Linked DNA regions of Homo sapiens. The protein of the gene in region 1 purifies or fractionates together with the protein of each later gene. This does not show direct contact. Each region holds a gene or a part of one and is shown in the gene's direction. Other genes may lie near its edges.

Region 1 (2,293 bases):
TTGCGGTTTTGCCATTGAAAGTAGTGGCAAAACCCAAAATTACTTTTGCACCATGCTAATACACCATCCAGATTTTCTGTGTGGTTGATGCTTGCACGAGGGGTTTCTGAGTTGGCCGAGAGAGAAACTGCATCTGGTACATTGCCACCTTTGCTTGTGGTCACACTCACAGTAATTTTCCAGGCAAGCCTCGTGGGCCCTGCTATCTGTCCCAGGGAAAGAATTTAGGAGAGTAACATTCTCTACCACACTACTGAGGTCCTGTTTGAGGGGAACCAGTTCATATGTTCATTCATTCAGCCAAGTTTTACGTTGCAGATTCTGAGTTTTTGGCTGGACACTGGAGAGGCCTACAACAAGAAATGATCCCTCCGGGACTTCCTGAGGGAGACAGATAAGGGAATAACTTGCAATGTAATGGCAAAAAGGGATAAGAGAGATTCGTGGCCCTTTGGGAATGATTCTTACCCAGCATGTCTCTTTCAGGTGCATAGCAGCCTGGCTGGAAGCATTCTGAGTGCTCTGTCTGCCCTGGTGGGTTTCATTCTCCTGTCTGTCAACCCGGCTGCATTAAATCCTGCCTCATTGCAGTGTAAGTTGGACGAAAAGGATATACCAACCAGACTTCTTCTTTCTTATGATTATCATTCACCTTACACCATGGACTGCCATAGAGCCAAAGCCAGTCTGGCTGTAAGTATTTTTTAGATGGGATGTTCTAATTTTATGAGGTTTCTGAAAGCCTTGATTTCTTATTATTCCATCCTTTGAAAATCTCTCTGTTAATTCTGGTTTGGGCATCTGGAGGAAGGCCAAGGTTATGTAAATCAAAGGGGGGCTGCATGGATGAGATTAAGGGGATTACATACTAACAGAGTGGAATTGAAATGTCAGATAAGGTTGATGATGAAAAACTAAAACTTACGGTTTGTAGAGTTTCTTAATTACTCAACTAATCTAATTTTGGAGGCATAAATTATGAGTTTGTCAAACTGAGAATGTTGGTACATAGAGTGGTGAATTCAGATTGGCAAACAGAGCAGAAAGACCCGGGTGATCAGAAAATGCTGACAAGGAAATGTGGTATGTGTGTGTGGTAGGGGGTCAGTTTGGTCTAAAAAGACATCAGACTAAAGATGAAGAAACAGAGAATAGGAAATATGGGGTTAGATGGTAAGGGTTTCTCCTAATGATTACAATAATGAATAATACTAATCAGGTGAAACGGTAACATTATTATTGCTTTTTGTTATAGCTGAAAGAAGTGTGATATCTTAAATCAGGAGATAAGAAATATAGGGAGATGGAGAGTGTAACTGAGAATTATCGCAGGAGAATTCTCTCTCTTTGGAAGAAGAAAAACAATGAAGTTTGGCTAACAGAAATAATGTGTCTGAAGTTGAAAAATTAAGGGGTATGTGCATGGCCAGCAACGCATTGAGAGGAAAACAGGCAACATAAAAGTAAAGAAGTTGCAGAATATTTATTGTCCTGCAATCATAAAAATGAGGTCAGCCAAGAACTCACCTGGACGATGGACAGATAGAAAGGTCTGGTCAAATTCATGCTTGTACAGCACCCATTATAAACTGAGCCTTGCTTCCAAGGTAATGGTATAATGAGGAAAAAGTGCATGCAAATGAGGCTGACAGTAATTGGTACAAATTCCACCTTGGGAAAAATTCTGGAGAGAAATTTGGGAGAAATTTGGTAGTGATAAAGTATAAATTCATGATGGGACGATTTTATATTGGAAATAAGAGAGATTCTGTTGAGCTTGCTTGCTGGAACAATTTCTAGGTAATGGACACAACATGTATCTTCTATTTAACTGTGTGTAAATACCACAAAACAAAAGTTCATGTGATCAAATTACCTCCCTTTATTATCAGATGACCAGTTCTGCACAAAGAATGTCTCAGGACAGAAATGGTAGAACTCATCCTTGTGAGTTGGTGTTGGTGATTAGCAACAGTTTACTACCTTCACTGTTTTTTTCCAAGTCTTAAAACACCAAAAACAGCAAAAATAAAAAATAAACAACAAAAATAAAAAACATCCAAACAGGTTCAGATACATAGACAGGGATGTCAATACTGAATTTTACAAAGGGCTTACACAGCCAAAACCTCCTTGATCCTCACAAATCTCTGAGAAATAAATGTTAGTATGCATGTTTGATACATGAGGAAACAGGAGCTAGAGAAAGAAAGAGACTTGTCCAGGCTTACACAGCTACTCAGCAGTAAAGATGAGACTATAATGGAGCTGCTGATTCTCAGTCCTGGGAGCT
Region 2 (3,500 bases), on another chromosome or scaffold:
TCATGTAAATAATCAGGCATATGGTCGTTTCTGTGCCTACTAGAAAGCAGGGTACAGTATTGTCACAGAGTAGCAAGAGTCTGATTGTTAAATTGAGACATTATAAATTCATCTAGTCATGATTCCCTCTCTCACAAAATAGATGAGTGAGACTAGAGGCAACACTATAATATCTTACATGGGTGACTTAATGTACCATCTAAGACCCAGAGTATAAGAAAACTGGGCATAGGAAAATATTTACTTGATTCAATTGAATGAATCAATAAAAAGAACACTCCCTCACCAAAAACAAAATGCATTTGTCTTATGTACTTGTGTCTTCTTTACAGCAAGGACTTCAAGACTCAAGTTCAAAATGCCAGGCATTGGAAGAAAACAATCTCTCTCTTCGACATACACTATCAGACATGGAATACAGACTAAAAGAACTGGAATATTGTAAACGTAATTTAGAGCAAGAGAATCAAAACCTTAGAATGCAGGTATTAAAACTTCCTTTTAAATATACAGTATTACCTTAGTTACATCATTGTAATCCTAGCATTTAGAAAACATATGGACTGCTTTCCCTCACATACTGTTAGATCTTAATCACTGACATTTGAGCTTTATAATGCAGTTCCTGAAAATCACTTTCATTATTTCAATGTCTTATTTAATCATGTGGTTTTCATCTAATAACAATCCTTGTAACATAACATGTATTTTCTTCAAAACAATCCAATTACAGATAGTTATTTTGCCTTCTGTAGGTTTCTGAGACTTGCACAGGCCCAATGTTGCAGGCTAAAATGGATGAGATTGGCAACCACTACACGGAGATGGTAAAAAACTTGAGAATGGAGAAAGATAGAGAGATCTGCAGACTGAGGGTATGTTGATCCTACATTGCATAAATACACAGGTCAGCACAAACTTTCTAGCAAGATAATGATGGCTTCAAGTTTAAAGCTACCAGAAAAAATTAGCTGAAGGTAGAGTTTTAGAAATATGTCATGTATTCATTTGTTTTAAATACATTACTGTATCTAAAATATAACTGTTAAATGATTTTCTAATTTAGCTTAATTTCTTCTAGGAAAGTAAAAGAAGATATTCATTTCAGTGGTTTGGTTTTGGTTTTTATTAATTTATTTTTTGGGATAGATGGAGGACTCTTCATGATCTTGCCTAAAGCATGCTTATGTAGGCAAAAGCAATATATGAAATTACTCAACAGAGCCATAGTTAGATTTGTAAAAATTCTCACTTAATTTCGAGGGATGATGAATAGCAAGGACTTTGTCAAGCATGAGGAGGAAAACAGTGTTAAGTTTTAGGTACCTATAGTTGACATCAAAATTAAGGTGATATTTATAAGTATATATTGCCTTAACTTGTAATTCTAGGTTGAATTTACTTAATCTAACCCTTATTTTACTGATTCCTAAAGGTAGTAAAATATACTTAAATATTTTAATAAACAAAATAATCACAAATTTGTCTCTCCAAACATCACTGTATAATTTTTACCAAAAATCAAAATGAAACAAAATATAATTTGTTTTCCAAACCTACCAATACTTCTAGCAGATTTCCTCCACTGATTTCTTTTCCATTCCAACATTACTAACAGCACTTCTACCTAAGCTACACACATATGAGGTAAAGAGGGAAATGGACAAGATTTGTAGTCAGAAGACCTGTTTTGGAGTTGCAGCTATGTTACTGCGTGACTGTGTCATTTAACCTCTCTGGAGCCCATTATCTGTTTTGTAAATGAAGATTATAATAATGCTTATTTCATGGGACTGCTGTGAGAACTGAGATAATTCATGCAGGAGGAATATTTTGTGAACTGAAAATCAGAATATAATAGTAGTAATTTGTTATTGCTATTTCCTTAATTATTATTTCAAGGACTCTAAAGTGCCTGTTTTCTTAGCTTTACTTTAAATTTTGTGGCCTAAGACTGTTACGTAGATAATGTTTAGTCCTACATAGCAAAGACACCTTAAAAAAAGGAGAAATTTGTAATTGGCATTTCATTTCATATTACATACTCATGAAATTCTTCGAACGTTTATGACTATTGGTATTTTACTTTCATTTCATAACTGTGTGAGTTTGTGTCACTTAACCTCCCTGGAACTCAGTTACACATTTTCTATATGAAGATTATAATAATATTTATTTCTTTTTAAATCCTTAGTCCCAATTAAACCAGTACCATAAAGATGTTTCAAAGAGAGAAGGAAGTTGTAGTGACTTCCAATTTAAGCTTCATGAACTGACAAGCTTGCTGGAAGAGAAGGATTCCCTCATAAAGCGTCAGTCAGAGGTATAAAAGGAAGGGGTGGGGATGGAGAAAAGTAATACAACTTAGTACTGTAGTACTGTAGGATAAATACTTCCCATGGACTAGAAAAGGACACATATCCAAGAGTCACTTTATTTAATGAAATAAAATGTAGGTGCAAGTGAGGAAGTAGAATATACATATTTCAGGAGACACAATTCAAATGAAAGTTACAATTGAAGCAAAAAATAAGTGCTGTTATACATTTAATATTTTTAAGACATTGATTTTATATTTCATTAGCAGTGAAATTCCCAGTAGACTGTGACCTCCTTACTACATTATGAGCTGCTTCATTAAAGCATGTGTTATATTCCTCCTTGTATCTGTAGCATGTAGCCCATGACCTGGCATTCAATAGGTACTGAAGGAATTGTCAAAAATTATGGGTAATATTGTATTGCTGTTATGGAGCAAATGGTGCTTGTAGTAACATTCATTGATAAACTCTCTCTTAAGAAACTATATCTGCTTATATATTGAAGTTTCAATACTTTTCTTCTATGGATATACTTTTCAGGCTTTTCAGAGCAAAAACTTTCACATCCTCATCCTGAGAACCACGCCCATTCAATCTCAAGTTATCCTCCAAATTTAGATATCCTGTATCAGTTGCAGGTTCCTGCACCGGCATATAATATAACTTATTAGGTACTGTGAAGCAACACTAGGTGATATTCAACAAGTGGGATTAGAACATTATTACGTCAAGGCTAAAAAGGGGTAAAAGGGAGGGGGTATAATCATTGTTAGTAACCCTTCTAAATGATTAAATATATTTATTATCTCATGTTTCTACTTTCCATCAAATGATTATATTATCTTTTATTTGTAAGGAACTCTCCAAGTTGCGGCAAGAAATATATTCCTCTCATAACCAACCCTCCACTGGTGGAAGGACTACTATTACCACTAAAAAGTAATGTATTTTTAAATGAAATTTGAATATAAAAATTATGATCATATAATCCAAGTTATTTCATGTTTAATTGGTATATACAAGCTAGACAGAGTTTGGTGTTTTCTGCTGGCCAGTTATTCTACTGAAGAATGAATATTCACAAAAAGACATCACTATTGTGGTCAAAAAAATCCTGAAGCACATCTTTCCTGAATTTACAATATATTAATTACCTTGGAAGTGAAAAACAAATAATTG

What was found.
Region 2: the proteins of MS4A6E (region 1) and POF1B purify together in Homo sapiens (affinity purification with mass spectrometry; one large-scale study listed by BioGRID and IntAct). This does not show direct contact.

What each region holds. Positions count from the first base shown.
Region 1 is NC_000011.10:60,337,255-60,339,547, forward strand, and holds part of MS4A6E (membrane-spanning 4-domains subfamily A member 6E), read left to right. Parts: intron 1-486; coding exon 487-693; intron 694-1,255; exon of another isoform or gene 1,256-1,446; intron 1,447-2,293. UniProt on the Homo sapiens protein: May be involved in signal transduction as a component of a multimeric receptor complex.
Region 2 is NC_000023.11:85,303,166-85,306,665, reverse strand, and holds part of POF1B (protein POF1B), read left to right. Parts: intron 1-332; coding exon 333-485; intron 486-755; coding exon 756-875; intron 876-2,194; coding exon 2,195-2,323; intron 2,324-3,177; coding exon 3,178-3,260; intron 3,261-3,500. UniProt on the Homo sapiens protein: Plays a key role in the organization of epithelial monolayers by regulating the actin cytoskeleton. May be involved in ovary development.